4 separate regions of the Homo sapiens genome follow, and all the other regions are linked to region 2. The links come from fine-mapping of genetic effects on plasma protein levels. A gene starts in region 2. Each other region holds a variant in brackets. All regions are shown on one strand. Distances are from middle to middle. Region 1 overlaps CR2 (complement C3d receptor 2). Region 2 holds the start of CR2 (complement C3d receptor 2). Region 3 overlaps CR2 (complement C3d receptor 2). Region 4 overlaps CR2 (complement C3d receptor 2).

The links. PIP is the posterior inclusion probability: the model's chance that the variant is causal. Protein levels are from antibody-based Olink assays in UK Biobank. Linkage for the fine-mapping came from a reference panel and not from the study's own genotypes, which makes the PIPs less certain.
Region 1: its variant is fine-mapped to the plasma level of the CR2 protein (UK Biobank, PIP above 0.99). The variant lies in the coding sequence of CR2. If it changes the protein, the assay may bind it differently, which can mimic a change of level.
Region 3: its variant is fine-mapped to the plasma level of the CR2 protein (UK Biobank, PIP above 0.99). The variant lies in the coding sequence of CR2. If it changes the protein, the assay may bind it differently, which can mimic a change of level.
Region 4: its variant is fine-mapped to the plasma level of the CR2 protein (UK Biobank, PIP above 0.99). The variant lies in the coding sequence of CR2. If it changes the protein, the assay may bind it differently, which can mimic a change of level.

Annotation. Positions count from the first base shown.
Region 1 is chr1:207,471,901-207,476,746 of GRCh38, forward strand. It overlaps CR2 (complement C3d receptor 2), which reads left to right. Exons shown (of 20, transcript NM_001006658.3): 10 at 872-1,279; 11 at 1,645-1,821; 12 at 1,901-1,985; 13 at 2,341-2,423; 14 at 2,924-3,316; 15 at 4,334-4,519. Among named protein-coding and RNA genes, the nearest start is that of CR2, 20 kb to the left of the region's middle. The variant G/A (reference allele first, on the strand shown) is at 2,398.
Region 2 is chr1:207,451,177-207,459,299 of GRCh38, forward strand. CR2 (complement C3d receptor 2) reads left to right here and starts at 3,152. Exons shown (of 20, transcript NM_001006658.3): 1 at 3,152-3,300. The coding sequence starts at 3,243. RefSeq lists silencers at 2,991-3,220, 3,601-3,710.
Region 3 is chr1:207,477,618-207,485,740 of GRCh38, forward strand. CR2 (complement C3d receptor 2) reads left to right here. Exons shown (of 20, transcript NM_001006658.3): 16 at 268-453; 17 at 1,640-1,663; 18 at 2,361-2,436; 19 at 7,847-7,955. The coding sequence ends at 7,937. Among named protein-coding and RNA genes, the nearest start is that of CR1, 14 kb to the right of the region's middle. The variant C/A (reference allele first, on the strand shown) is at 2,433.
Region 4 is chr1:207,462,847-207,470,969 of GRCh38, forward strand. CR2 (complement C3d receptor 2) reads left to right here. Exons shown (of 20, transcript NM_001006658.3): 2 at 3,680-4,066; 3 at 5,681-5,869; 4 at 5,954-6,053; 5 at 6,304-6,386; 6 at 6,849-7,256; 7 at 7,894-8,070. Among named protein-coding and RNA genes, the nearest start is that of CR2, 13 kb to the left of the region's middle. RefSeq lists an enhancer at 6,431-7,630. The variant C/T (reference allele first, on the strand shown) is at 5,759.

The DNA.
Region 1 (4,846 bases), 19 kb after region 2:
TCTTCTGTAAAGTTGGCATAAGACTACAGACTAGGAGGTCCAGAGAATGTAAATAAAAAGTAAAAAGGACCAGGCACAGTGGCTCACGCCTATAATCCCAGCACTTCAGGAGGCTGAGGGCGGCAGATCACAAGGTCAGGAGATCAAGACCATCCTGGCTAACATGGTAAAACCCCATCTCTACTAAAAATACAAAAAATTAGCTGTGTGTGGTGGCATGCATCTGTGGTCCTAACTACTTGGGAGACTGAGGCAGGAGAATCACTTGAACCCGGGAGGCGGAGATTGCAGTGAGCTGAGATCACACCACTGCACTCCAGCCTAGGCAACAGCGTGAGACTCCATCTCAAAAAAAAAAGTAAAAAGAAACGTAGAAAATTTAAAAAACACTACAGACTTCAAATTATTCAAATTAAATTGTACTATTGCTACTTTCTGGATGAGGAAACTGCCTATCACAAAGTAGGTGCTCATTCAACAATAAGTTTTCTCAGCTAGCCATATAAACCATCATATCACCTCAGCACAGAGTAACCAAGAAAGCATAATTCTATTACCCTGTGTCTTTTATTCTCCTATTGCCTAATTAAAAAGAATTCTTCTTTTAATTAGCAATTTACTACTGGGCCTAACTAACTCCTAATGTGATGTTGATCAACCACATTCACTTTGAATAAAGATTTTCTTTCCTATGAAATGTGTTTAAATTGCATTTTACATACTTAATGAGCTTTCACACAACTCACATCATGAAAATGTACCCATACCGTCCAGGAAACAACAGATTCATAACCAGCTTCATTTGGTGGTTCTTTGTTCTTTGGTGTCTAATACAGGAACTCAATTCTACAGTATCTTTTCATCTCTCTAGAAATCACCTGCCCACCACCCCCTGTTATCTACAATGGGGCACACACCGGGAGTTCCTTAGAAGATTTTCCATATGGAACCACGGTCACTTACACATGTAACCCTGGGCCAGAAAGAGGAGTGGAATTCAGCCTCATTGGAGAGAGCACCATCCGTTGTACAAGCAATGATCAAGAAAGAGGCACCTGGAGTGGCCCTGCTCCCCTGTGTAAACTTTCCCTCCTTGCTGTCCAGTGCTCACATGTCCATATTGCAAATGGATACAAGATATCTGGCAAGGAAGCCCCATATTTCTACAATGACACTGTGACATTCAAGTGTTATAGTGGATTTACTTTGAAGGGCAGTAGTCAGATTCGTTGCAAAGCTGATAACACCTGGGATCCTGAAATACCAGTTTGTGAAAAAGGTAAAAACCCAATAAGGGGGAAAAAAGGAGAGATTTACTTAATTATTCTTGTTTATTATCTCCCACCCAAAACTGCATCATGGAAAGAGGCAAGAGGGGCACAGATTACTTTCTGTTTCTTCCATCCTATAATAGATGTTCTCTGTGTTGTGTGTGTGCATGCAAATGCCCCCTTGGATCTGGGATCTATTCAGGGTAGATAATGAGAGAGCCTTTTTAAAGAGCAAACAGCATTCAGTAGTGAATTTGAGCTTCATGATCTTTGGCATCAGAGTTTCAGACTGTCTGTCCAATGTTGTACACTTAGTGTTCTTGAGTAGAAATTCCTCTGTGTTGGTATTTATGTAGGGAGTTTTTCTCTTCAGGCTGCCAGTCACCTCCTGGGCTCCACCATGGTCGTCATACAGGTGGAAATACGGTCTTCTTTGTCTCTGGGATGACTGTAGACTACACTTGTGACCCTGGCTATTTGCTTGTGGGAAACAAATCCATTCACTGTATGCCTTCAGGAAATTGGAGTCCTTCTGCCCCACGGTGTGAAGGTACTTTAAGTTCCAGAGTTGTCCTTCTCTTTGATATGAGACATCTATAAATACTGTAATTCCATCCTTGCTTCTCCAGAAACATGCCAGCATGTGAGACAGAGTCTTCAAGAACTTCCAGCTGGTTCACGTGTGGAGCTAGTTAATACGTCCTGCCAAGATGGGTGAGTATGAAGTGGTCTATTCTGAGAAAAGGTCTCAACCTTGTTTTGTGGATTAACTTGACCTTCAACTTGTCTTGGTGGCATCCTTTAGAGGCTCCTCATTGTCACAGGCATGGAGAATATGAGGTTCCAATGGCCTAAATAGCAACTCTGACTCTTCAGTCGTCTCTTGACATGGAAAGGGCTTTGCTTAACTCAAAAGTAGTTTTTTTACTTGGAGTAAAAAAAAGTAGTTTTTTACTAGAATTTCAACTCCTCTCTGCCAAAGTTCTTATTTAGAAGTCCCTTTTTGCATGCAGTTTGAAGAGATATGATATTGGGAACAGGAAATGCATTATAATCTGTCTCTCTGTAGGTACCAGTTGACTGGACATGCTTATCAGATGTGTCAAGATGCTGAAAATGGAATTTG[G/A]TTCAAAAAGATTCCACTTTGTAAAGGTAAGTTAGAAAAAATAAAAGCCTGACAATGGTAATGGAGGATTAGAGAGGGCAGGCCACTGAAGAATTAGTCTACTGCTGCTTCAGCAGTCTTAGGCGTCTCCCTCATTGGAGGTTAGATAAGAAAAATCTTATGGTGTTGGTCAGTATTGACACTGAGAAACAACATTGTCAAGTAGGAACTGTTTTTCATGCATCTGCTAATTTTGCTAACAATAACAAAATATATAGCCCATATTCCTAGGTCATGGGAACATAGCTGTATTTCTTTCTTCCTTCACACTTTACTCTATTTTCTGAATTTTTATGGAGTATATAGTACTCCTATAATCACATTTAATAAAGCTGTTTTTAAAAAAAGCATAATCCATATTCCAAAATTTAAGTTATTTTCTAGTTATGTGAAATATATGCAGTTGCATATTGTCATTTGTACCTGAATGAAGACCGCTCACCTTGAGGTACTAGCTGAAGTAGAACTCCCTAAATCTCTTCTGCAGTTATTCACTGTCACCCTCCACCAGTGATTGTCAATGGGAAGCACACAGGCATGATGGCAGAAAACTTTCTATATGGAAATGAAGTCTCTTATGAATGTGACCAAGGATTCTATCTCCTGGGAGAGAAAAAATTGCAGTGCAGAAGTGATTCTAAAGGACATGGATCTTGGAGCGGGCCTTCCCCACAGTGCTTACGATCTCCTCCTGTGACTCGCTGCCCTAATCCAGAAGTCAAACATGGGTACAAGCTCAATAAAACACATTCTGCATATTCCCACAATGACATAGTGTATGTTGACTGCAATCCTGGCTTCATCATGAATGGTAGTCGCGTGATTAGGTGTCATACTGATAACACATGGGTGCCAGGTGTGCCAACTTGTATCAAAAAAGGTAAGATACTTGGAAGGGATAAGTTATGGGATGTTGTACAGAATAAAGAAAAGAGGTTTTGAATCTGCACTTGACATTCTGCCTAAAGAAAAGCATCTAAGAGCTAAGGCAGTTATATTGTTTTACAAGATATTTGCCTTTTCCTATCTTCTCACTTGATTGTTTGTTTTCTCTTTCCTTTCTCAGTATATTGAGCAATAAATAGTACATGAAAGGATAATGGCTAACTTCCAAATTGATAGCATCTCCAAAAATTGTTATTGTTATGACTTTAGTGTAAGAAAAATGCACATACATTTTTGGCAAATGTTTGGCAGTAATATTGCTAATTATTTGATATTTAAGGCTATGTTGCCAGCCAGAAAGAGAACTTTGGGTGTTCTGGAGAATTAATTGGCCCTCCAACCCATTGAATTGTCTTTCTTGTAATTGTAGTTATCATTTGGCAGCCTTATTCCTGTCCATGACTATCTACAGCAGAGGCTGTTTGGCAACGGTTGTCTTTGACCAGCACAGTAATCTTAAGTGAAACCCATCTTCAGTTTAAGATAAATAGTGAGCTTGCGAGCCACAAGACCCCCTTTGCTTCCCAGCAAGGCACCAGTAACTTGAGCTGAGCAGTGGCTGCCACTTTTAGAAGGACAGGGGCTCTCTGACTTGTCGTATCTGGTGGCTTCACTTCCTAGCTCTCGTAGACATTTGAAGGTGTAACCATGTCTGCTATTTAAAGGGAAAGGAAAAGAAAACTGTTGGCTGATGGATTACCATTGTGAACTGTATCCATTAATGTTTCATTATCTTATTTTTTAACACTTTTCTTCAAATCATATTGGCTATCAGTAGGAAATGCAGATCTCCATCCAGTGTTGCTGGTCTGGGTGGAATGAATGAATGTTTTTGGATACCAGTTAGTTGGCTTGTTGCTTCTGGCCTTCCTGTATCGCTATCACCCAGAGATAGTGCAGGCTATGTGTTCCTCTGTGCTGAGTTAAAGACCCTTTCTTATTGGTGTCTAAGCCTTCATAGGGTGTCCACCTCCGCCTAAGACCCCTAACGGGAACCATACTGGTGGAAACATAGCTCGATTTTCTCCTGGAATGTCAATCCTGTACAGCTGTGACCAAGGCTACCTGCTGGTGGGAGAGGCACTCCTTCTTTGCACACATGAGGGAACCTGGAGCCAACCTGCCCCTCATTGTAAAGGTGCTTTGTCTATTTTTTATTCTTATTTTTATATCAAATTTGTGCCAAATAGATATATTCAGTTGGGTACTTTCAACTTAAAATAGCCAAAGAAATGAATTAACTGTCTGATTACATTAAAGGCTTTAATTAGATTAATACAATCATTAAATATCTCAAAATAAGAAAAAATGTCTCAGGCTGTAGTCTATCTGGTGAATGACCACTTATGTAGTCATTTACACATAGAAAGTTGGAGTTATGTCTGTAAATTAAACAACCAAAGCACAGATTGTATTTACACACTGTAGTTACAGTTATGTTAAGTGTGTATTTGATAAAGTACCA
Region 2 (8,123 bases):
AAAGTTACTCTTTAGAGCATTAAAAACAACCAAACTGTCCATACATAGGGAGATGGTTGAATAAACTATGGCATATCCACACAGTGAAGTATTGCATGCAACTGTAAAAATGAATGAGGAATATTTGAATTTGTAGGAAATAGTGGATTCCAGCATATTTGTTAAGTTAAAAAAGAAATGTGCAAAAGAATACCTATAGCATGCTTTTAAAATGTAATAAAAAAGGAGAACTAAGAAGACAAATGTGTAGCAGCTCATTTGAGCAAAACTAAGGACAAACCAGAAACTACTGAAATTGAGTACCTATGGTGGAGAGGATAGAGGTGATGGAGAGAAGTGACATTTCCCTTTTATTGTGTCTTTTTATATCAATCTGACATTTGGGACTACGTTAATGTTTTATTTAAGCAAAAAAAAATCAAAAAGATTGAGGGGAAACTAAAATAGAATACAAAGAGAAACAAATTAACAGTATTTTGAATGAATAACAATCACACTGAAGAGGGGGAATAATCTGAGTAACTTTGGAACACAACAATGCTGTTTTTATATTTTCGGGCTATAAACAAAATAAAACTTTAAAAACGAGTAGATTTGATTTCCATCATAGTATAGAAATAGCAATTTTAAACTTCTTTCTGTGTATTCTAGGATTAAGCAAATAAGTAAATATATTGTGGATCTAGGTGTCTCACTGTTGAAGAAGGGAGTTACACATGCAGAAAGAGGGAAGGACAGAATGAACTCTATGCTAACGGACTGAAATTGGAAGAATCACTGTGAATTCATGACATATATAAATATAGATATGGGAATGGATATACATATATATATATAATACATATCCTTGCTCTGTCTGCTGAGAGGGTGCGGAAACAATGATACTCCAATAAAAATGAACACACTTAGCATCCAATTCTGGCATCTAAATGCCATTCTCTGCCAGAAAGAACCAGCATTCCTTGGAGAAACAGCAAATTCCAGTGTCAGGTCTAGAGGTGAGTCTGGAGCATTTTTTTTTGTGTGTGTGCCAGAAAGTAAGGAAGTGCTCAAAGAACAATAAGAACAAGTCAAAATGACATAGGAACTATTTTGAGGGCTCCCACTGGCCCGATCAGGGAGAATTTAAGCATCAAAATAAATAATGGTAGCCATGAATTATGACCCATTGAGTAAATAAATAAAATTCATATTGATATAGTTTATGCTGATATAGATAAATGAATAAATAAATAGAGAAGGGAAAACTTTTATTTACAGTAAAATGCCAACAGATGAATATAGAAGTAATTATTAAATTAGGAAAAAACACCCTTTGACAACCATCATAGTAAAAATTGATTCAAGAAAGGATCATCAATAGACGCTAAAATTTGTGGGTAAAAATTTGATGAAAAAATGAGGAATTTACATAGTTTTAAAGTATCTCCCTATAAAATACTTATTAATTACAAAGGGAAAAATACTGAGTCTACACTAAGAAACATGGCAGGCACCATCTTAACTAAGTGATCAAAGTTACCACCACCAGTAATAGGACAAATAGACAACATATGCCTCCCCGTAAGGATAAGACATCCTTTCTGGTATTCCTGTCAAATAATTAGATTCAATAACCTGAATCTATCATGAAGAAATGATAGACAAATCCAAATTGTGGGGTGTGATCCTGTCTCCTGACATTACCATCCACGTATACTGCCCTCCTACACTGAAAAGGGCTGATCTGTACAATCAATTGGATATTCTGGAGTTAACATATTGTGATTTCTGAGGACAGGTCACAAAGGACATTATGGCTTCTTCTTTCTTGTTCTCAGAGACGCTAGCTGGCATGTCACGAGGACACTCAACACACAAGCAGCGAGCCCTATGGCAAAATCCACGTGGTGAAGAATGAAGCTTCCAGCCAAAGGCTGGTAAGTGAGCCATCTTAGATGTGGATTCGCCTATCCCAGTTAACCCTTCAGATGACTGCACCTCCAGCTGGTGTCTTAACTGCAATCTCCTGAGCGATCCCAAGCCAGAACCACCTGACCGACCCACAGAAACTGTGAGATCATAAATGTTTATTCTTGCTTTACACCACTACCTTCAGGGTAATTTGTTATTATAATAGATAACGGACTTAAAAGTCATTCTCCAAAAATAATTGTGGTGTATTCGTCAAAAATGTAAAGGTCATGCAATACCAAAAATGCTGAGGACATTTTTCCAGAATAAAGAACTGGGGGTGGGGGGAAGGCATAATGATCAAACACAATACATGATCCTGAAATGATTCTGGACCAGGAAAAACAAAGGTTGGTTTCTATTGTTGTTATTGTTTTTACCATAACACAGGTTATTGAGATGATTGTCAAAATTTAAATACAGATGGTAGCTTATAGTCTTGTGTCAATGTTAAGTTCTTATTTTTGATCATTGCACTCTAGTTATGGAACAGAAAGTCCTTAGTGAACCATTTAGAATAGGAATAAATGCTAGATGGTTCCAAAGTAATAATTATATAATTATAATTATATAATCACATATATGTACATATATGTCTATAGAGAAAGAATAGAGAATGGTAAAGAAAATACAGCAAAATGTTAACATGCAGAGAATCTGGGTGACAAGTATATGGGAATTCTCTGCAGTACTCTTGAAACTTTTCTGTAGAGATTACTTCAAAATAAAGAACAGAGCAGAAGTGGCTGCTGTTCCTAAATTCCCTAAGTAAACTTACACTGCTTTTTCAAACTGGGAGATGAATCCACTAATAGGTTTTGAAATGAGTTTGGTGGATTTCTAATAAGAATAGGATAGCCTAGCCTAGTCTAGCATAACACAGCATGGCACAGAGGACGAACATTGTAGATTACTAAGGGTGAGTACTAACTTGTGAAAGTTTTGTTTAAGTTCTAGTAAGAGAAACAAGTGAGTGTAGTGGGTTGCGTGGTCAAAAAAGTGGGGAAGCCACCGCAACGAGGGGTGAGTCTGAGCCAAAGAGTGGCTCAGAGCTCCCCGCCCACCTCGTGCCGGGCCGTCCCTCCCGCTTGTCCCACCCTCACCGGCGCCGCGTCAGCCCCCAGGCCGCCTGCAGGTGTGCGCTCAGAACTAGCACGTGTGCCGGACACTATTTAAGGGCCCGCCTCTCCTGGCTCACAGCTGCTTGCTGCTCCAGCCTTGCCCTCCCAGAGCTGCCGGACGCTCGCGGGTCTCGGAACGCATCCCGCCGCGGGGGCTTCGGCCGTGGCATGGGCGCCGCGGGCCTGCTCGGGGTTTTCTTGGCTCTCGTCGCACCGGGGGTCCTCGGTGAGCTGGGAGGGGGAGCACGGAGGTGGGGACGCGTCCCGGGCAGGGAAAGTTTCTGTGCCGCGATGCAAAGCAGGGGGCCAAAAGCGAGACGGTGGGGGCAGTGCTCGACGCGTGTCCGCCTCCCGCTAGCTTTGAGGGACCACTGCAATAAACCGCCTGGTCCTGATTGTCCCCACTGGCCCCTCCGGGAGCTGGGACCTCCAGAATTGGAGGCTGCGCCACAGAGGGGCGCTGTCTGGTCGGCCCGGTGTGGCTGGCGGCGTGCGGGTGCTCGCGGTCTCCTGCCGGGCTCCCCGCCCCCAGGATTCTGCAGGTGCTCATCGCTCTCTGGCCGGCGGTCAGCGCTACCGCTCGCCACGGGAAACCTACCCACTGCATGAGGCACCAGCTAGCCACGTGAGGCTGTTTCTGTACACCCGAACCGCGCTCTTGCCCAGCAAAAGCGGCAGAACCTCGGCTCCCTTCCCTAAATAAGAGTAAGACCTGGTTCCCAAGCATGGGTCTCAGATTTTCTGAACTCTAATGTGATATTGGTAGAGATCCTAAACATTAACCATCCGTAGTTATTTTTGAGACATGGATTAAAACTATTGTTTTCTTCTTGTTATTAACCTACTGTAATGGTGTGGACGTCCGCAAAGGTCTCATTCACCGTTTATTATATCTTTTTTTCCTCCAGATTGGCTTGATTTTAAAGAAAGATTATAATTAAGATTAGCGTCTCTTGGCTACAGGATGGGTCTAAGTTTCTAATTATCTCCACGGTACCGTGCATTCCTAGTTTATAAGACGTTTACTGTGTGCAGACCTCAATAACTGGGTGACTTTTGGCAAGTCATTTAGCTCCCTGATCTTCAGTTTCTTCATCTGTAAAATGAAACTAGTGATTAACTGGCCTTCCACCTCACTGAGCTGCCCTGAGCACAGATGAAACTAAGCAAAGAAAGTTGGATGTTAGTCGTTACTACTAAATATCAGTAATAAGCCTCCTGTACAGACTTGATTTTATGGAGCCAGCATTTAAGCTAACAAGCTGGGTGTCCAATTGTTTCTATGGACATCCAGCTTATTGAGGTGTCTGGAATACAGCACATATTAGTTTATTACAACTTTTTGCTTTCCTGACATTTTACTGTCTCCTGACCCTTAAACCTTTCTCCAGACCATTATCTTCATCTCTTTTCTTTTTCTGCATATTAACTCCCTTTGAACAAATGTATATTCACACTTTTTCTAAGAGCAGAGTACGTCCCTGACTTCTCACCTATTTCTAAATTTCAAAGAGGATATTATCAACTGAAAATCAAATTCTTCACCAGTCCTGCCAATTCAGGGCCACAGCAGCAGCATCATGTAGGTCACTTAACTGGAGCCCCATGAAATACCAGGTCTACCTATCAGCCATTCAAGCTACTGTGCTTCTGTTGTTTGTCCATTTCTCATTTTTGTACCAGTATTCCCATCCTAAGCATTATAATTACCTGTGTAACAACCTCATCTCTTTTAAGAGATTTTGGTTCTTATGATTGGAAAGGTTAAAGAGTGACCTATAGGTCACTTTCCAATTATGAAAACAAAAAATTAAGAAATATATATATTTTCATTATTTCACTCCATTGTTCAAAAATCTAAAAGGCCTCCAGTGGAAGAAAATCTGGTGTCTTCAGCCTTTCTAGCCCTTTGGAATGGGATCTCACCGAAGCTCACACCCCCTGATTTCTCCAGCTGCCTGTCTTGTATGCGCTGCTCATGGTCTTCCCCACCTGTCTCCCATGGCTCATGCTTTGCCCACTCTCCACTGCTAACTTTTACTGCTACTGCATGCTCTCCACACATCATCTCTTGGCCAGTTCCTGCACTTGAGTGTGCTTAATAAAATACTAAAGTACCTTTATAAAATGTAGGTTCCTGGTTCCACCTCCCCCTCCAGAGGTTCATAGGTTTGGAGTTAGCACAGGAAAGCTGAGGTTTAACAATCACTCTAGAAGATTCTGCAACAAGTATCTATAGGGCACACTGCTATAAGCAAAGTCAATGGAAGCAAATTTCCTTTTTAGTGTTTTCCTATTTTTCCTTTTGTCTATTTGCATAAACAGTTTCAAATTTCCTACACTTCTAGATTTTACTCAAGCCTTCAGTGGCCACCTAACTTTATCCTATGCTGAGAAAACAAAACCATGAAACAAGAATGCTCCCATTTTCTAATCGGCTACAAACCTACCAACTTACAAACTTACCTCCATCTAGAATCAGATTTTGTTCTCCACTGCAGAAAACCTGCTGAGGCCTTCCCGTCACATTAGAATAAAACCCATACCCCTTATTCTCCAGTCTGAGGCCTTCTGCCTCTCCCTGAAATTCTCTGTACCCCACTCACTCTCTCTGCCCCAGCCACACTGGCCTTCTCTTTATTCTTTGAGCACAATTGCACTAGGTATTCTCTCTTTTGAAATGCTCTTCCTACAAATTATTCTTTGCCTGTCTCCTTGACATTCAAGGCTCAGCCCTCTGTTGTGCTTCTCTGACTCTTGTCTGAAGTATCCATATTCCAGGGTACTCTCCAATACAAAACTGTGTTCTATTTTCTACAGACCACCTATCACCATCTAAAACCTTCTTCCTTATTTATGTACCTGTTTGTTGTTTGTTCCCTCACTGGAATACAAGTTCCATGAGTGCAAGACCTTAATCTGCCTTATTTCCTGATTTGAGTTCCTATCAATAGCCTGTAATTTGGAATTCAATAAATATGAATTGAAATCTTGGTATGTTTCCTCCTATAACAATGAAAGAAGTATCCATTCTGCTGACAAATTCAGCTCCTTTTCCTGTATTCATGATCATGTTCCATACCCTCTTGCCTTTGCAAGGACTTTACTTCTGCAGATATCTCCTACCTTGCATCATCAATGTACCTCTTTCTGTATGATCATCCCCACCAGCATTTAAGTATACCCCAGGAAATCCTTTATGGACCTTCTCATGACCCACTGGAACTCCATTTTCCTGTCCCTCTTCTTGTTCTTCTCAGCAAAACTTTTCATTGACTACTTACTCAAATTTCGTTATCTCCTTCTCCACTTCAGACAGGCTTCTTCCCCACAGTCTCCTGAAGCTGTTTCTTGCAATGTCGCTACTGACCCTTATGCTGATAAATCCAATGGTCATTTTTCTATGTTAATCTTTCTCAGTCTTTCAGCAAAAACTGATGACTTCCTTTACCTTGAAACCATTATCATTCTCATCTTCCAAACCAAGACACTCTTACCTGTTTTTTCCATACTTCCCTGTTGTCTCTTAGTCTTTTTTGTTCTATCTCTAAATATTAGAGGGTCTTGGGGCTCAGCCCTGAGCCTCTTCTTTCTTCATTTCTTCTTCCTAAAAAACCTCAACTCATCTTGTCTCATGGCTTTGAATACTATTTATATGTTGATGACTCATATTTATTATCTATAGTTCTGTCCTCTCTCCTGAGCTGCAAACTGCCTACTTGGCATCTTGATGTGGATGCCTAGTGTGTTAGATATACCAAGTCTGAATGGAAATGATTCTGAACACAATTCCCTACCTCAAGGCCACAACACACACACACACACACACACACACACACACACACACACTCCTTTTTCAGGCTTTCCATCCTCAGAACAGGGTAATTCTATCAATTGTGTAGCCCAAGTCAGAAGTCTAGAAGTCAGGAATCCTCCCATTTCCTCAGCCCCACATGTAAAACAACAAAAAATCTTGCCAATTCTATTTCTAAAATATATCCACTGCTCAATCCTTTGCCAAGCTTCATTTTTTTTTTTTTGGCCCTAAACTGTACTCTTTGCTTCTAAAAGTAAGCAGTTCGATCCACTCTCTACCCAATTGCCAGAATATTCCTTTAAAAATGTAAGTCAGGCCTTGTGATTCTCCTGCTTGAACTCTCCAATGACTTCTATTCAGGATAATATTCACATATCTGTGGTCTAAAAAGCCCTTCATGATCCCTCCTGCTGAGTTTTCTGACTTGATCGTGGACCATTCTGCTTTGCTCATTGCATCCCAGCCACACTTGCCTTCTGTCTGTCCCTGGAGCATACCAAATCCATTCCTCCTGTTAGGCCTCTGCCTAAAATACTTGTACCCAGCAATTTGCCTGGCTGCTTCCTTCTTCCTTCTTGTCCTTCAGTCACAACTTAAATGTTGCCTTTTCACAGGCCTTCCTTAACCATCATAACTGAAGTTGCATGCCACCCTGTCCCTTCTCCTTCCAGTGCATTACATTGTGACATATCACTCTATTTCATATTTCATGTTCAGCACCTTCTTATTTATTTCCTGGTATCTATTTACAGTCTGTCTCTTTCTGTTGGATTATAAATTCTATGAGGGTGGGAACCTTGTCTCTGATGTTCACAGATACATCTCCTGTGCTTAGGACTGAACTTTGGTTAATATGCATAACTGTTGTTAAACTAAATAACAAACAGGGAAAGACCCTAAAAAAAAAAGATATTTGTTTGGGAATAGAACATTGCAATGGGAATATGTGTGTGATTATGAATTGTGTGTATATTCAAGGAAGTAAAAGAAGACAAAGGTTTTTAAAGGAAAAATATGAGGATTACATAATTGTTTTAGAATAATTATCCTTGGCTACAAAGACCAATAACAAGGATGATGCCAGTTTGAGGTTATACAGGCAGATGCCGGAAGGATGTTCTTGTAGGGTTGCAGTGGCTTTTGTGCACGGTTGTGGTTTTTCAGTCTTTTATGATAGTTTGGGTTAACAGGTATACAAGCATGAGAACCCTATTTTCATGGCCTTCCCTGGC
Region 3 (8,123 bases), 26 kb after region 2:
CATTAAAATTATCCATCACTGTTTGGATAGAAACTGAAGCAAAAAACACAAATATAATCTGGCTTAAATTACCCAGAGGTTATTGAGATAGAGGGCTGACAGTAAAAGATTGTGTCTAGGATATAGTCTTATCCTATTTCAGTGCAGCTTTCCTTACTGAGAGTGAAACAGGTTGGTTTTATAAATCTTTCTATTAAGGGAAATTTCTGCTTTCTTGGTAAAAGGCCAAAATATGACTGTGCTTGAATTAGATTTCTTTAATTTCAGAGGTAAACTGTAGCTCACCAGCAGATATGGATGGAATCCAGAAAGGGCTGGAACCAAGGAAAATGTATCAGTATGGAGCTGTTGTAACTCTGGAGTGTGAAGATGGGTATATGCTGGAAGGCAGTCCCCAGAGCCAGTGCCAATCGGATCACCAATGGAACCCTCCCCTGGCGGTTTGCAGATCCCGTAAGTACCAAGGGCTTCACCGCCGCTTGTAACTGGCTAACGGAGAGAAGAGAGTGAGAGTTTCCCTCAGCGTGGAGAGTCCTGGGTTTTAAATTGACATAGGTTTGTGACCAGTTGTATAATTACAGAGGAACTTGAAGTCAGTGGTCTATTCTAGAAAAAGCACAGCTTGGCCAGGTCCGTGACTTCTGCCTGTGATACCAGAATTTTGAGAGGCTGAGGCAGGAGGATTGCTTGAGCCTAGGAGTTTAAAACCAGTCTGGGCAATGTAGTGAGACCTGGTCTCTACCAAAAAAAAAATAATAATAATAACCAGGCATGGAGGTGTGCACCTGTGGCCCCAGCTACTCGGGTAGCTGAGATAGGAGGATCACTTCAGCCCAGGAGGTTGAAGCTGCAGTGAACCATGATTGCACCACCGCACTCTAGCCTGGGCAACAGAGTAAGACCCTATCAAAAAAAAAAAAAAAAAAAAAAGAAAGAAAGAAATTAAATAAAATAAAAAAGAAAAAGGAAAAGAAAAAACACAACTTTCTTAGGATGGGGAAAGTGAAGAAAAGAAAATAGAAACACTAATTTAAAAGGAACAAAAATGTGAAACAAGCAACCTGAAATTTTGAAAGGAGTTGCTGCATAGACCACCCTACGTGCTGAATCTGAGTTAATAAGTGCTTACAATTTGACAGGGAACTCCAGAAATAGGTTAAATAAATAGTTGTTACAGTTAATATTTGCATTCTAACCTGAGAAATCTCTGATTATAAAGTTGAGTATATTGTTTTTGTCATTGGTGGACTCCCCCAATCTACTTAGAGTGAAAAAAAAAGGCCAGTGAGTTGCTACATAAGAAACAAGTGGATATAACTCAAGGTTCCAATACATCTTTTTTATCTGTTGTTTTTTGTTTTTGTTTTTGTTTTTGTTTTTGTTTTAAATAGACACAAGGTCTCACTATGTTGCCCAGGTTGGTCTCAAACTCCTGAGCTCAAGTGATCTTCCCACCTTGGCCTCTCAAAGTGCTAGGATTACAGGCATGTGCCACTGTGCCTGGCCCCAGTACATCTTTTAAATCGACTTGGAAGGGAGCTAGAGTGTTGATTTCTGGGACATTACCATGAAACGTGGGGCTACATTGAATTATGACACTATACTGATAATCATTTTCATGATTTTGTACTATTTTTAGGTTCACTTGCTCCTGTCCTTTGTGGTAAGTCTTCTTAAATACTTGAAGAAAAGCTCTTATAATATTTTTTAAAAATATGTAATGCTAGAGGTCCTATATCCTATCTGATGATATATTTAACTCATAGGGAATGTTCTCTTTTTGGTGTTTTAAAGATACTTCAATGTACATGTCACATTACAAAATGTCACTTTGGCATAGAGTTGGATAAATTATTTGAACAGCCAGCTCTTTCTTCTTTTTAAATTGATATTTTAGTTTTTATTAACTGTTGGTGTTTGGCTTGATTTGGTCTATTGAAATAGGCAGGCTTCTTCTGCTGTAGCAAAATACATTTCACAGCTGAGAGTTAAATGTTATGCAAAATTATAAGAACCTGGTGTCCTGTGCACCTAATTTCTATTCTTGAGATTTCTCTCTTGTCACCTCAGTGACAAGATTGTTACTAATAAAACTAAAAGGAACAGAAAAACTCAATGAAAAGTTGACTGGAACCTTGTGGTCATGTGCTTGGTGCTTTAGATTAAAGGTGGACTGGATCAAATCAGAAAAACCTTAAGCTCAACTATGATTATTCAGGAATTCAGCATTTATGTCCAAGAAGAGTTAAGTATGAGTCACATAACATTTTCCCCACCACTAGCAATAGGCCCTGCAATCAGTCAGAACAATGTAGGTGATCGTCTTCTGGCATTTGATACTTGCTGGATTTTTCTTCTAGGTATTGCTGCAGGTTTGATACTTCTTACCTTCTTGATTGTCATTACCTTATACGTGATATCAAAACACAGAG[C/A]ACGGTAAGTTCAAAGGCGAATACTTGATTGACCAACATGCACAAGTGGTTTCGGCTTCTTGTCTGAAACTAAACACAGAAGCACAAGTTATGTGAAATAAATACTGCAATGTGATAACTAAATGAAGTATCTCGTGCTATACAAAAGGAAGCCCTTTCTGTAGGACTTAAGAGATATCAAACACTTAGCTTATTTTATTGAATGATGTTTATTCAGATAGTATATTGTAAACAAATCTAGAGAATAGGAAAAAAATCCCAGTGGGAACGACTGCAAATACTTTGGTGTATTCGTATCTGATCTTTTTCGTATATTTTTTCTCTCTTTAAACTGAAATTTTGTCATTTTCATCTTCTGTCTTGATTTTTTTCATTTAGACTCATGTTTATGTTTTTATGCTTTAAGTCATGTTTTCAGTTACTAAATAGCATATTATTCTATTCTGTGTATTTATATATGTATTTATGTGTTTTAAGTTCCTTCCAAATTTACTTTGATAATATATAAAGATAGGAGTAGCACCTCTGGCTAAACCTTTTTTCATACCCACTTATTTCCTTAGAATAGATTTCTAGAATTACTAAAGATAAGTGCATGAGCATTTAATATACTTGATAACTATTGTCAGATGACTTGCCAGGAAGTTTGTTCTTAGTAATATTTAATGTACTGGGATATGTCGTGTTTCTCAACCCCTTTTCCTGCTTCATTGATTTGCCTGTTCCATTACAAACCACTTTGTGTTTAATTAATACCTTTATGTTATTATATCTGGTAGGGCAAGAATTCACACTACAATTTTATAGGACTTTCCTCTCTATTCTCTTCTGTTTGTTCCTATAGGTGATTTTTAGAATCATTTATAATTTCAAAAAAAAATTGTGATTACATTTAAGTCTATAGATAAATTTGTGAGAAATTGGCATCTTTTCTGTAATGTCTTCTCATTCAGAAATATACTAGGTCTTTCCATTTGATCAAGTAATCTTTTCTCTCCCTTAGTCATTTTCATGATTACTTAATATTAACTATATTACTACGTTTCTATGTTTTGGTATGTTATGTTTTCTTATCCAGAAATTAGATATATTTTTGCATATTATTTTTAATTATTTTTAAACATCTTAATCCATTAGGAATTTATTTTATGGTATGGTAGTTGAAGTAAACCTACTTGTACTTTTTTTCCCTATATATTCAATTTTTTCAAAACCTATTTTGAGTAAACCATCCCTTCACCATTGGTCATAGTTTTCTTTATCAGATAAAGCACGCCTATTCAATTCTTGTGTACACTGGGGCTTATGTCAGAGATATCTGACATAAATATGCAAGATAGATTATATTCCACTGATCGGCCTGTCTCTATGAGCCAGAGCTACTCTATTAATAAATGTAGCTTTTTCCGAGATGTGTTCCCCCTCTTCAAAACTATTTTGAAATTTTCTTCTATTTATTTTTGCAGATAGGCTATAGAATTATTTGCACCACGACTACACCTCCCATACCCTAGAAAAATAAAATAAAATCTTAGATCATTGATAGGAAGTGCCTTAAACCTATATATTTATTTGGGAAGAACTGACCTCTTCATGATATTCACTATTTCCTTCCAGAAATACCAGATGACTAATTATTCAGATGTTTTGTTATATTTTAGTTAAAATTTAATAGATTACCTTATATAAGCTACATAGCCATAAAAGTATCTTATTTTTATTGCTTTATAAATAGAATCATTTTTGGTTATGTCTTATAAGTAATTGCAAATGATATCTAGGAAAGTCTATCTTTATACAGTCATTAATTCTAATAGCTTTTCAGTGAGTTACCCAATCATCTAAGTAGAAAACTATATTTTCTACCAATTATTATTATTGGTAGAAATAATTTCTACCTCATATCTACCGATTATACATTTTCATTTATTTGTTTTTGTCTCATTTTACTGAGAAGAATTTTAAGGAAAATCTTCAGTAATATTAGGGAATATTGGCATATTTTAACCTTTATTTTTAATATAAAGCCTCTAGTGTTTTATCACTAAAAATGATACTGCATCCTTTTTTCTTTTCTATATTACATAAAGTGTATTTATAGTCACAAAAGTTGTTTTTCCCTATTTAAAATCACTGAAAAATCTTGTTTCCCTTCTTTAAGCATATTTTTATATCACTATAAATATTTGCATAAATTTTTAAAATACAAAAGTAAATATGCTTGTTGTAGCAAATTAGTTTATAAAGATACTGAATAGTCTCTTCCACTGAACAACTGCTGGTGCCTTCAAGTCCAACATATTAAGTTGATGGATGTCAGCAATTTGCTGTAGATACTTTCATATGTTGCTCTATCTAGTATATACATGCATGGCTTTTAAAACATTTGAGCAGTAATGTTAGAGAAATAGAAGTCATGCGAAAAGAGGAATGACCACGTCCATCCATTCTTTTCTTATACAACAATGGCTGAGTGCCTACTATGCCTTAGCACTATACTAGGCTAGAATCACAAAGCCTAGTAGCATATGGCCTCTGTCATCAAGGAGGTCACAGCCTGGTAAAGGAGGACAAGCATGTCGCTAAACAAGTACCATAAAATAACGTCGCCATGGTGGATTATATGATATTTGGTGAGGATGCAAAGCAAATGGTCAATATTTGGGAGTTTTAATCAGGAAAAGTTTCAGCGTGGAAGAGATGTTTCAGGTGAGCCTCAAGAGAGTGTAGACAAGAAGAGAAAGGCATTCCAGACAGAAAGAGCAGTTTGAATAAAGGCCCAGAGGCTTGGCTTTCCATCATGTGTTGTGAGAACTACATAACCCATTTGAAATGGCTGGGAAATAGTGTGTGTGTGATGGTGATTGAAGGCGAAAGTGGCATAGCTTTAGGTGGAGACATGCCATTAAAGAAAAAAAAAAAAAACCCTGACACGTAAATCTTGTGGAAGCTACAGAATACTAATATGTGCAAAGGATACATTTTTAACAAAGCATACCGTCAGGTGTTGGCCTCGGATGTTATGTGTGCATAGGTTCGTGAGTCTTTGTACATGCTAGTGTTAGGGCGGATAATCCAATGAAGTCTTACCAACTCTCAGGTAGCTCCGAGTGGGGAGATGACCAAGTCATGCCACCTAAAACATGTCACCAAAAAGCTCCAGCAAAATTTCTTTCACGTGCCAAGTCCCCTGCATCTATCATTTACCCTGCCACCAGTGCCATCTGATGCCATGGCTCAGTTATGTAATTCCTAGAATAGGCTCAGACATGAAGGGGTTGCACTGAAACTATGTACTGAGGGTATCTACGAACCTGGGCAGTTTGTTCTAGGCTGGAGGCGGGAGGGTGAGGGCTGCCTATGGGGTTCTGGCTGTCCTGTACAGTTAGCGTGTACTTAGAGTGTAGAGTTTACCAGAGTGTGTACCACACAACCCTGCTTTCATGAATGACTTCAGAAAAAAAGGGTGTTCTATGGCAAATAAGATTTGGACATACTGCACACTGTTTTTTTTTCTTGTGGAGAATCACAAGGACCATGAGAATATTTAATAAGAGGTTTTTTGCTATCAAGAGGACAGGATTTCCAGGACTTGGTGACATGCTGGATGTGGGGAGAAGGAGGCACATAGAATGGCTCACATGAAGGCGATGAGGTGGACCCCCTGACTCACTAAAAGAGGAGAGGGGCAGGATTTGTGGGGGAAGATGAGGAGTTCGGTTCTGACCTGGTACTTTGAGGTACTCATGATTTAGGGCTTGGGAGAAGGGTCTGGACTCGGGTGGGTGACACTTAAATCACAATGAAAGCTGTGGAACCAAAAAGAACAGAACAGATAAAAATTGGGATGAGAACAGCCCTCAGAAGAACAGTAATGTTCAAAAGGCAGAAAGTGAAGGAAGAGAGGCAGGGGGAAAACTAGCAGAGAGTAGCGTCACAGAATTCAAGGAGAAAAGGGTCTCAAAAAAAATTAGGGATGTCATTTGCAGGGCCTTCCTCATAGGAAGTCACAAGATAATTTCAGCCAAGAGGCATTAGAAATGTAAATACATAGAAAATACAGTCTCTATCTCTTTCCTTCATGCTACTGAGTTTGCTATCAGAGCACTGCATGTGTATAAAAATTTGCAAATTTGGGGAATGCTTACAAGTGCAAATAATTTATAATATTCCAGTCTAATTATTGTTTATTAATATGATTATATCATGTACTATACTTAAGTGCCTCAACTGATATGAAGCAAACATACCTGTTTAACCAGATTCCTAGTTGCCATTCATTTATTTCCATTTGCTAACCCACTTCAATTGATTTTCCAATAATTGATAAAGACACTTGAATGGCCTGAAATGCTTTTTTAAATGAGATGAGTAATCATTTAAAAATGAATGTCTAGTGACAATATTAAATATTTTGAAAAGCCATCTAAACACTTGAAAGACACTATGCTATTCTTTTCTAGTCATCTAAGATATTGTAACAAAGCTTAAATCTCACATTGACCTAAAAATTACTGTTTTATAATCTTCTTAACATATCTCCTGTACACGGAACTCTTCAATATTCTAGTGAGTGACATGCTGTCAGTGTCTTTAGCAGTATTCTTTCTTCCCCAGTAATTTTGTATTATGTTATTTTAGAGCTTTACATGGTAGTATAATCACATTTTATTGTCTTTTAGTAATTCTGGCAAAGTGGTTTTAGAAGCACAATGAAATATGTGTACTTTCAAAGAAGGAAAGTAAAAACATTCTCTTCAAACTCGTTTAAAGCTTTTAAGTCAGACTAGAACATTGAGTCCCAAAAGGGTAAAGTTATGATCTAAAATAAGAACTTATTTTTGCTTCTTTTCTTCAATTTGGAAGTTGTAGTTGTTAGTCATTAAGCGTCCTGGATCCTAGGGTAAAGCTGCTTAGTGTCAGCCTCTGACTTGAACACTTACAAGCCTAGATCATTCATTTTTTATGTGCCTTTCCAAAAAATGGAGTTACAGTGTTTACACTTCATAGGATAAAAACAATAAAAATGAAATCATCACAGAAAACCAAACACCGTATGTTCTCACTTGTAAATGAAAGTTGAACAATGAGAACATGTGGGCACAGGGAGGGAAACATCATACACTGGGACCTTTCACAGGGTTGGGGGTTAGGGGAGGGATAGTATTAGGAGAAATACCTAATGTAGATGACGGGTTGTTGGGTGCAGCAAACCACCGTGGCACATGTATACCTATGTAACAAACCTGCACATTCTGCACATGTATCCCAGAACTTAAAGTATAATTTAAAAAAATGAAATCATCCACAAAAGTACTTACCATGTGTTGGGAATTATGGAAAGCAAACAACTGCTACATTGAAACATGGTCAATGAGTAAAGATATTACATTTTTCTTTCTTCTTCTGTTTAGCAATTATTATACAGATACAAGCCAGAAAGAAGCTTTTCATTTAGAAGCACGAGAAGTATATTCTGTTGATCCATACAACCCAGCCAGCTGATCAGAAGACAAACTGGTGGTATGTAATGAAATGGAATATTATTAATTTACATATAAAATTTCCTTCAACTTGTATTTATCAATAAGCGTAGCATTCACGGTGTATATACATGCTTCTTACTATTGCACAAGTCTTCAGTAATCATGCATAGCAATTGTTCATTTACCTACTTCATTTTGCCAACTA
Region 4 (8,123 bases), 12 kb after region 2:
AATATGTATAAAAATGGAAAATGAAGACTATAAGTTATAACTGACCACAAATAAAGTTGGCATCCATGCACAGAAATGCAGACTGTGTGCATTAAACAAGTAGTGTTCTAGAGTTGACTGATCCGTTGGAAAGTTTTGTAAATGTAAGAATTTCTGTGAGTAAACATAAGCAGGCCTGTCAGCAAGTCCAGTCAGGTTGAGATTTAATATAAAACACAAAAAGTCTCCAAAAAGTCTCCTGAATCCCAGCCTCAAATTCTGTTTGGGTTGATTTGGTTTTCTTTTGTAGATAAATCATGTGTGAGTCATAGAGAACTCCTTTAGGACTCTGTGATTACACACATGGGTATTGCATTTGGGTTGACAATGACATATTCTTGTAATAAAGGGTGAGTTGGCAGGAGACAGTTCCTGGGTACATGGATACCAGAACAGCAGTTCCAACCAGAAACCATCACTCTTCCAAAAGAGATCTGAGTAATTGCCACATACTTTTTAAAATAAATAAGCAAAAAGGAATCACCTCCCTGATCCACTCCAGAGACACTGCTTCAAGATTACCAGCTAGAGAGGATCCCTAGAAGAGAAGGAAGTTTTGGCTGCTCTCTTCCAGTTTTAAGTCTCCAGTGCTACTGACCAGGAGCTTGAATTTCATTTGGCTTTAAATTGTATGAGTCCTTAATCTGTCACCCCTGCTTGTCATAAATGATATTCTATTCTCTGCTATTCTTTCAGTAGAGAAAGAACTAAGTTTTTCTAAAATGTAAGTCTAGCTGGGAGATGATCACTCTTTATTTTTATTTTTATTTTAAGTTCTGGGGTACATGTGCAGGATGTGCAGTTTTGTTACAGGGTAAACGTGTGCCGCGAGATTTCTTATCTCTTTGTCTTTAGATATCTACTCTTTGGTGACTCATCTGCTACATGTATTATCTCAGACAATATTGTAACCTGGGATAATGACATGCCTTTTAATGAATGTAAGTAAAACAATCTCTTTATTGCACCCTATTTAATTCCTCTTGTCCCCTTCCAGAGGGAAATTGAGCATCTGCACACCAAAGTGAGTAGCCAGGAGGGTTTACACTTGGTTTGAGTAGCTCTAGGCACACAGCTATGACTTACCCATCTTCCTCATGGCCCCCAATCCTACCACACGTTCCTTTGTTTACTGTCCTTTGATTATAAGTTATTTCATAGTGAGTAAATGCTTACATCTAAAACATTCCAGGAGATTACACACTGCCAACTTTATTCCATGCAAAAAGTAAGCCACCCTAGGTCCCTTCTATAACAATTTATCTGTGGTCTGGGGCGGGGACTGGTGACCAGCTCATAGCTTTTCGGTTTTTATCAGCCAGTTCCATATATCTTTTGACCTTGCTACTTCCTATTTAGAATCATCTTTGAGATCAGGATACAGAATTTCAACAAAATAGGTAAATTGTAGGCTGAGTTGCAGTTTGGATTGCAAGAATGAAGAGAAAATTCTCAGAAAGTATAATATTCTCTCTTTCCCCACCTACTCCTTAAAAAGGTATTCCTTGTAAGTCACTCCCAGCCATCCCCCATGGGACTTTGACAGCAGCAGCAGGGAGAGGGGTTTGCTATGAAATCATCAGTGCCATATTGGATGTAATAGGGAAAAGCTGTTTGACCTCTTGGATGAGAAGTCAATGCATTGCACCAGCAAAGATAATCAAGTTGATGTCTGGAGCTCTGGAGCAACCCTCCTCTTCAGTGTATTACTCTTACTTGAATGCTCAATTATAGAAGTTGAAAATGGAGTTGTGGAATCTGGATTATGTTCATTTTTTTAAAATGATACATGATATTTAAGTGTAAGCTTGGTTTTACCCTGAAAGGCAGCAATGTAATATGGTGTCAACTAAACAGCAAACAGAATCCTCTACTGCCAAAGTGCTTCAGGGGTGAGTTGGGCTGAAACTTCAGGATCTAGAAATAAAACAAGGTTTTTCTGGGAAATAGATATATGGTACCTATGGAAAGAGCAGAAGGAAGATAGTATATGTGGTTGAGTTTTCTAGTTAAAGAGTTTTTTATTGTTATTGTTTGTTTTGTGTTTCTGTTTTTGTTTTTTTGAGATGGAGTCTCGCTCAGTCGCCCAGGCTGGAGTGCAATGGCGTGATCTTGGCTCACTGCAACCTCCACCTCCTGGGTTCAAGCGATTCTCCTGTCTCAGCCTCCCGAGTAGCTGGGATTACAGGCATCCAACATCATGCCTGGCTAATTTTTGTATTTTTGTAGAGATGGGGTTTCACCATGTTGACCAGGCTGGTCTTGAACTCCTGACCTCAGGTGATCCACCTGCCTCAGCCTCCCAAAGTGCTGGGATTACAGACGTGAACCACCACACCCTGCCTAGTTAAAGAGTTTAAAAGTAAACTTTGAAAGTAATATCTAAATGTTGCAGATGTAGGACTTTTTCTTCTTTTGTATTTTGGGGCAGTGCTAGATCTGTGTTATTGTAGGGGAAATTAAAAGATGCTTTTTTAAAAAAGCAGATAGCACCAAAGTCAATGATTAGAGATTTTTTCATACATATATATATATATAATTATCACATCTTATCCATAGGTGTGCTTTGAACATATATATGCCACTCTTCTCTGTCTTCTGGAATGCAGACCAAAGATGTTAAATTGATTCAGTTGAGTATATATTATACTGCAGATTCTATATGTATAAAGACAACAGTTCTCGAAAGTTACCCTTACTGAAACCAAGTATAGCACTGATGTGATGAAACAGTTTGGCTGTATCTTCTTATGTCAGTTTTCACTGAAGACCTCCTCTTGGAGCCAAAGGGAAGTTAACTGAAAGTTCTAGAGGTTGGCAATTTTCCCTTTATTCTGAGACTCCCTCAGAAAAGGCGTGCATAACAAAGTAAATGTAAACAATATCCTTCATGGTTATTAGGACAAGTAAATGAAGAATATGAGGCCATTATTCAAAACCTCTGTTCACTTCCTGTGGCTTTTTCAAAGTGTTCCAGCCTCAAGTCAGGACAAATCACCTGTACTGAGGCTCTAGCATCTTCAGCAGCAGGACCAAAAGTGGTCATCTCAGCCTGTACCCCCAGTTGTGTGTTTGAAGCAGCCATTGAATAATTAGTATGTTCCAGGTATTGTACTTTCTCTGTTCATGTACTTTTAGCACTGGATTCTCACTATACCTTATGAAGTAGTTTGCGTTATACTATAGACTAAGAAACTGAAGCTTAAAGAGAGTAAGACTTGCCTGAGGTCACACAGCTATTGAATGACCGTGGGGAGTTGAAACTAGGTCCACTGAGCTCAAATTTCCCTAATCCATGGTACCTCCCCACATGTAACTATCATGCCACTAATATGTTATTTTCATGTGCTGAATTTGCCTTTTGTTTCATTATTAAAATTGATTAGACTCAGAACTTTTGGATATATTCTTTTCATTATTATTGTTTGGTCAAGATGATTTATGTTGATCTGTTTGCTGAGGATCAAGAAAAAGGTAAGAATTTAGGAGTTTGGGAGTAAGCAGGGAATAAATAAACTATACATATTTCTAAGTCTGTTTCTGAAAAAGTTATGTGATCTATATTTGGATATTTTACCTACATTTGAATATTTTCTCACCATGATCAGTATGCCTACCAAGTTCCTTTTCTACTTTTCAGGGATTTCTTGTGGCTCTCCTCCGCCTATCCTAAATGGCCGGATTAGTTATTATTCTACCCCCATTGCTGTTGGTACCGTGATAAGGTACAGTTGTTCAGGTACCTTCCGCCTCATTGGAGAAAAAAGTCTATTATGCATAACTAAAGACAAAGTGGATGGAACCTGGGATAAACCTGCTCCTAAATGTGAATATTTCAATAAATATTCTTCTTGCCCTGAGCCCATAGTACCAGGAGGATACAAAATTAGAGGCTCTACACCCTACAGACATGGTGATTCTGTGACATTTGCCTGTAAAACCAACTTCTCCATGAACGGAAACAAGTCTGTTTGGTGTCAAGCAAATAATATGTGGGGGCCGACACGACTACCAACCTGTGTAAGTGGTGAGTATGAAAAGAAAGCTGGGTTGGGAGGTTGGGGTCTTGCCTTTCTGTGCAGACCACGTTTTGTACCCTCCTGAAGGACAAACAGTGTGAACATGTAATGATGAGGGTGGAAGAAGGAAACAAGGGAAAAGGTGAAAGTTATGGCTTCTTCGTGGAGGCATATAACTGCTCGTTCAAAAAACATCAATTGAGCAAAGGAGTTTAAAGTACATGGAAAAATGTAATTAAACACACCTAATAATTGAGTAGGGTAAGTTTTGCAAGGATGGGGTCAGAGTTTGTTGGGGATGTGGGAATGGGGTGGTTTTCAACTGTATATCTGTGTTACTGTTAAAATGAGAAGAACGGTGGGATCTTATAGCAAAAATACACCCAATGGATTTGAAATTAATGTATAAGTAGCTGCTAACACAGTCTAGCACAGGTGATATCCTGCTCTCTGTGGTCTCTGTAAACATGTTTTGAAGTTATCCACTATTTCCCCAAGTCATCTTCTGAGCCATCACATTTCAAATAAATGCCTTTGAAAATAGGGACCTACTGTAAATTATTCATTCCTTCTCTTTTGGTTTGGTTTATGTTGCTGCTGAAATATAAATCTGAATTTGAATTCCACAATTACAAGAAATGGCAATATTTGACAAAAATTATACTATCAAATTAGGTATTTTCTTAATAAAGAACAATATTGACAAATTTTAAGCAGATTAAAGAGCTGACAAAACTGTTAAATTAGTATAAAATGGGATTCTGTTTATTGATTGATTGATTGATAAATAGCCTTGGAGGAAGGAGATCTTAACGATAGTTACAAAGGGCAATGGCTGCTGAAAACAGTTAAGCCTTTGTAACAATTTAGACAGACATATATGTATGGACATGGAAGGATATCGTATACATGTCGCTAAGTAGAGGAAGTAAGGCATAGAATATGTATTAGTTGTACACACACACATAATATAGGTGTATATATGTATCATGCATAGGATCCCAATAAACTATATTGCCAATATCTACCAGGATAGCCCTTGAAATGATAGCATGCTACTTTTGGAACAGAGAATAAGCTTAAGGATAGGGTGAGAATATAGGTGAAAATTGACTTTTTTTGGTAATTGAAATTTTTCACAAGGCAAATGTAATTCATATAGTGTAACTAAAAATGAAAAATAAGGTACTATTTATGGCTATTTGTGGCATAAAATGGATACACTTAAACCACACCTGTTTGATCTTTAAAAGACTAGGTTGAAAGTTAATACCAACTGGCTACCATAGATCATGTGTCATTTATTTAAATCCATATCCTAAGTCAGCATCTCGATCAAGCTTGTCCAACTCGCTACCCGTGGACAGCATGTGGCCCAGGATGGCTTTGAATGTGGCCCAACAGAAATTCATAAACTTTCTTAAACCATTATGAGATTTTTTTTTTGCAATTTTTTTAGCTTATCAGCTATCATTAGTGTTAGCGTATATTATGTGTGGCCCAAGACAATTTTTCTTCTTCCAATGTTGCCCAGGGAAGCCAAAAGATTGGACCCCCTTGATTCTAGATTGTGAAGGATGCATCATCTGACGGCTTTTTTTTCCTGGTATGTGTGTGTAAAGTTTTCCCTCTCGAGTGTCCAGCACTTCCTATGATCCACAATGGACATCACACAAGTGAGAATGTTGGCTCCATTGCTC[C/T]AGGATTGTCTGTGACTTACAGCTGTGAATCTGGTTACTTGCTTGTTGGAGAAAAGATCATTAACTGTTTGTCTTCGGGAAAATGGAGTGCTGTCCCCCCCACATGTGAAGGTACCCTAAATTTACAATCTATTTTAAGAATCTGGGCTGTTCTGTTATTTGCCATGCATTTCTCATCTTTGGTTTGTTTTTTAGAGGCACGCTGTAAATCTCTAGGACGATTTCCCAATGGGAAGGTAAAGGAGCCTCCAATTCTCCGGGTTGGTGTAACTGCAAACTTTTTCTGTGATGAAGGGTGAGTGTCAGGATTATTTATGAGATTTAATTCATTTGTCTTGTGTGTGCGTGGTGTGGACTGTGAAACCTGCAGAAGTCTCCTCTGTGAGGATCTCTGGGCAGTCTGGGGTAGGGTTGTGAGAGGTAATGCTGATAAAAGGAACAGATGCACACTGATTGAAATGAACTTGTCTTGAATTGTAAGTAGAGGCTGCTGTTCTTCAGCACAAACTGCCTAATAGTTCTGAATGACAACCTTCTGTCTCCAGGTATCGACTGCAAGGCCCACCTTCTAGTCGGTGTGTAATTGCTGGACAGGGAGTTGCTTGGACCAAAATGCCAGTATGTGAAGGTAGGCTAGGCAACTATGGTCTGACAGCACTGCATTCTCAGCTTAACTAAAAGCTTTTGGTTCAGTCATTACCTTACAGACTCTTACTGAACACAGAACTCCTAGAGATCTTTAAGGATATGTGCTTCACCAAAGCATCCTTATTTTTTGTTTCCTCAAGTAAAATGGGGTTCCTAGGCTTTCCCTCCTCTGAAAGCTATGCAGACCTTCTAAGTAGGTAGACCATATGCATAAAGAAAATAGTGTATTTGGTAAAAGAAATCAAAGGATCAGCAGAGTACATATACTCAGGAATGAAGCTTGAGAATCAATCTTCTAAATTATGTTGCTTTAGCTGCCTTGACTGATTCATTATAGACTCGGATATCACTGTCCTAGGATAGTGGTATCAAGCAGCATCTGGGGCATTCTTTGTTTTCAATACACCTATGATCTTGTCATTTCTTTCTGCAATTCCCCTAGAAATTTTTTGCCCATCACCTCCCCCTATTCTCAATGGAAGACATATAGGCAACTCACTAGCAAATGTCTCATATGGAAGCATAGTCACTTACACTTGTGACCCGGACCCAGAGGAAGGAGTGAACTTCATCCTTATTGGAGAGAGCACTCTCCGTTGTACAGTTGATAGTCAGAAGACTGGGACCTGGAGTGGCCCTGCCCCACGCTGTGAACTTTCTACTTCTGCGGTTCAGTGTCCACATCCCCAGATCCTAAGAGGCCGAATGGTATCTGGGCAGAAAGATCGATATACCTATAACGACACTGTGATATTTGCTTGCATGTTTGGCTTCACCTTGAAGGGCAGCAAGCAAATCCGATGCAATGCCCAAGGCACATGGGAGCCATCTGCACCAGTCTGTGAAAAGGGTGAGTGTTCCGGTACTCAGAAAAGGTGCTTCTGATTCGTTTCTGAAAAATTAGAAGAAGGGGTTGTGGGCTTTAGGTAGGGCCTTGTCCAGTTTATACTTCCCTCAAATCTACTACATCTAATCAATATAAATTTTGTAGAGGGCATTCTTATCACTAGCCCCCCACCATTGTTTTATTTTGTGGGAATATGCTTGGAAAAAATGTTAGGAATCACTAAGTTTCTCATTTCTATAGGGGAAAAAATGAGGAGAAAAATGCTTGTTTGTCTTAATAGTGACTTCTTAAAAGAGAAGTCATTCAAGCCCTCATTCCTAGGGATATATCAGAATCTCCCATAAAAAACATACAAGATGATTCCTTATGAAGGGAAGAGGCAGGAGAGGAGTTGCAGAACCCAGTGGAAAGTGAACAACATCTGCAGCAGCCTCTGTGCAGAAAACAACAACAACAACAACAACAAAAGATTGGGAAACTGTGATCTAAAATTACCCAAAGCTGGTCTGCAACATATGTTCTGTATCATACAGCTGACGCCAGAGTGGAATTATAGCATGAATATCAATTTCTTTGGCTCAGTTTCTTTCTGTGGTTGTTTACTTAAGCAGTTATGTTTTGTTTTTGTCCTTTCATTTAGAATGCCAGGCCCCTCCTAACATCCTCAATGGGCAAAAGGAAGATAGACACATGGTCCGCTTTGACCCTGGAACATCTATAAAATATAGCTGTAACCCTGGCTATGTGCTGGTGGGAGAAGAATCCATACAGTGTACCTCTGAGGGGGTGTGGACACCCCCTGTACCCCAATGCAAAGGTGCCAGGCCTCAAATGTAGACATTTTGTTAACTTTAAGATTGCCTTGAATTA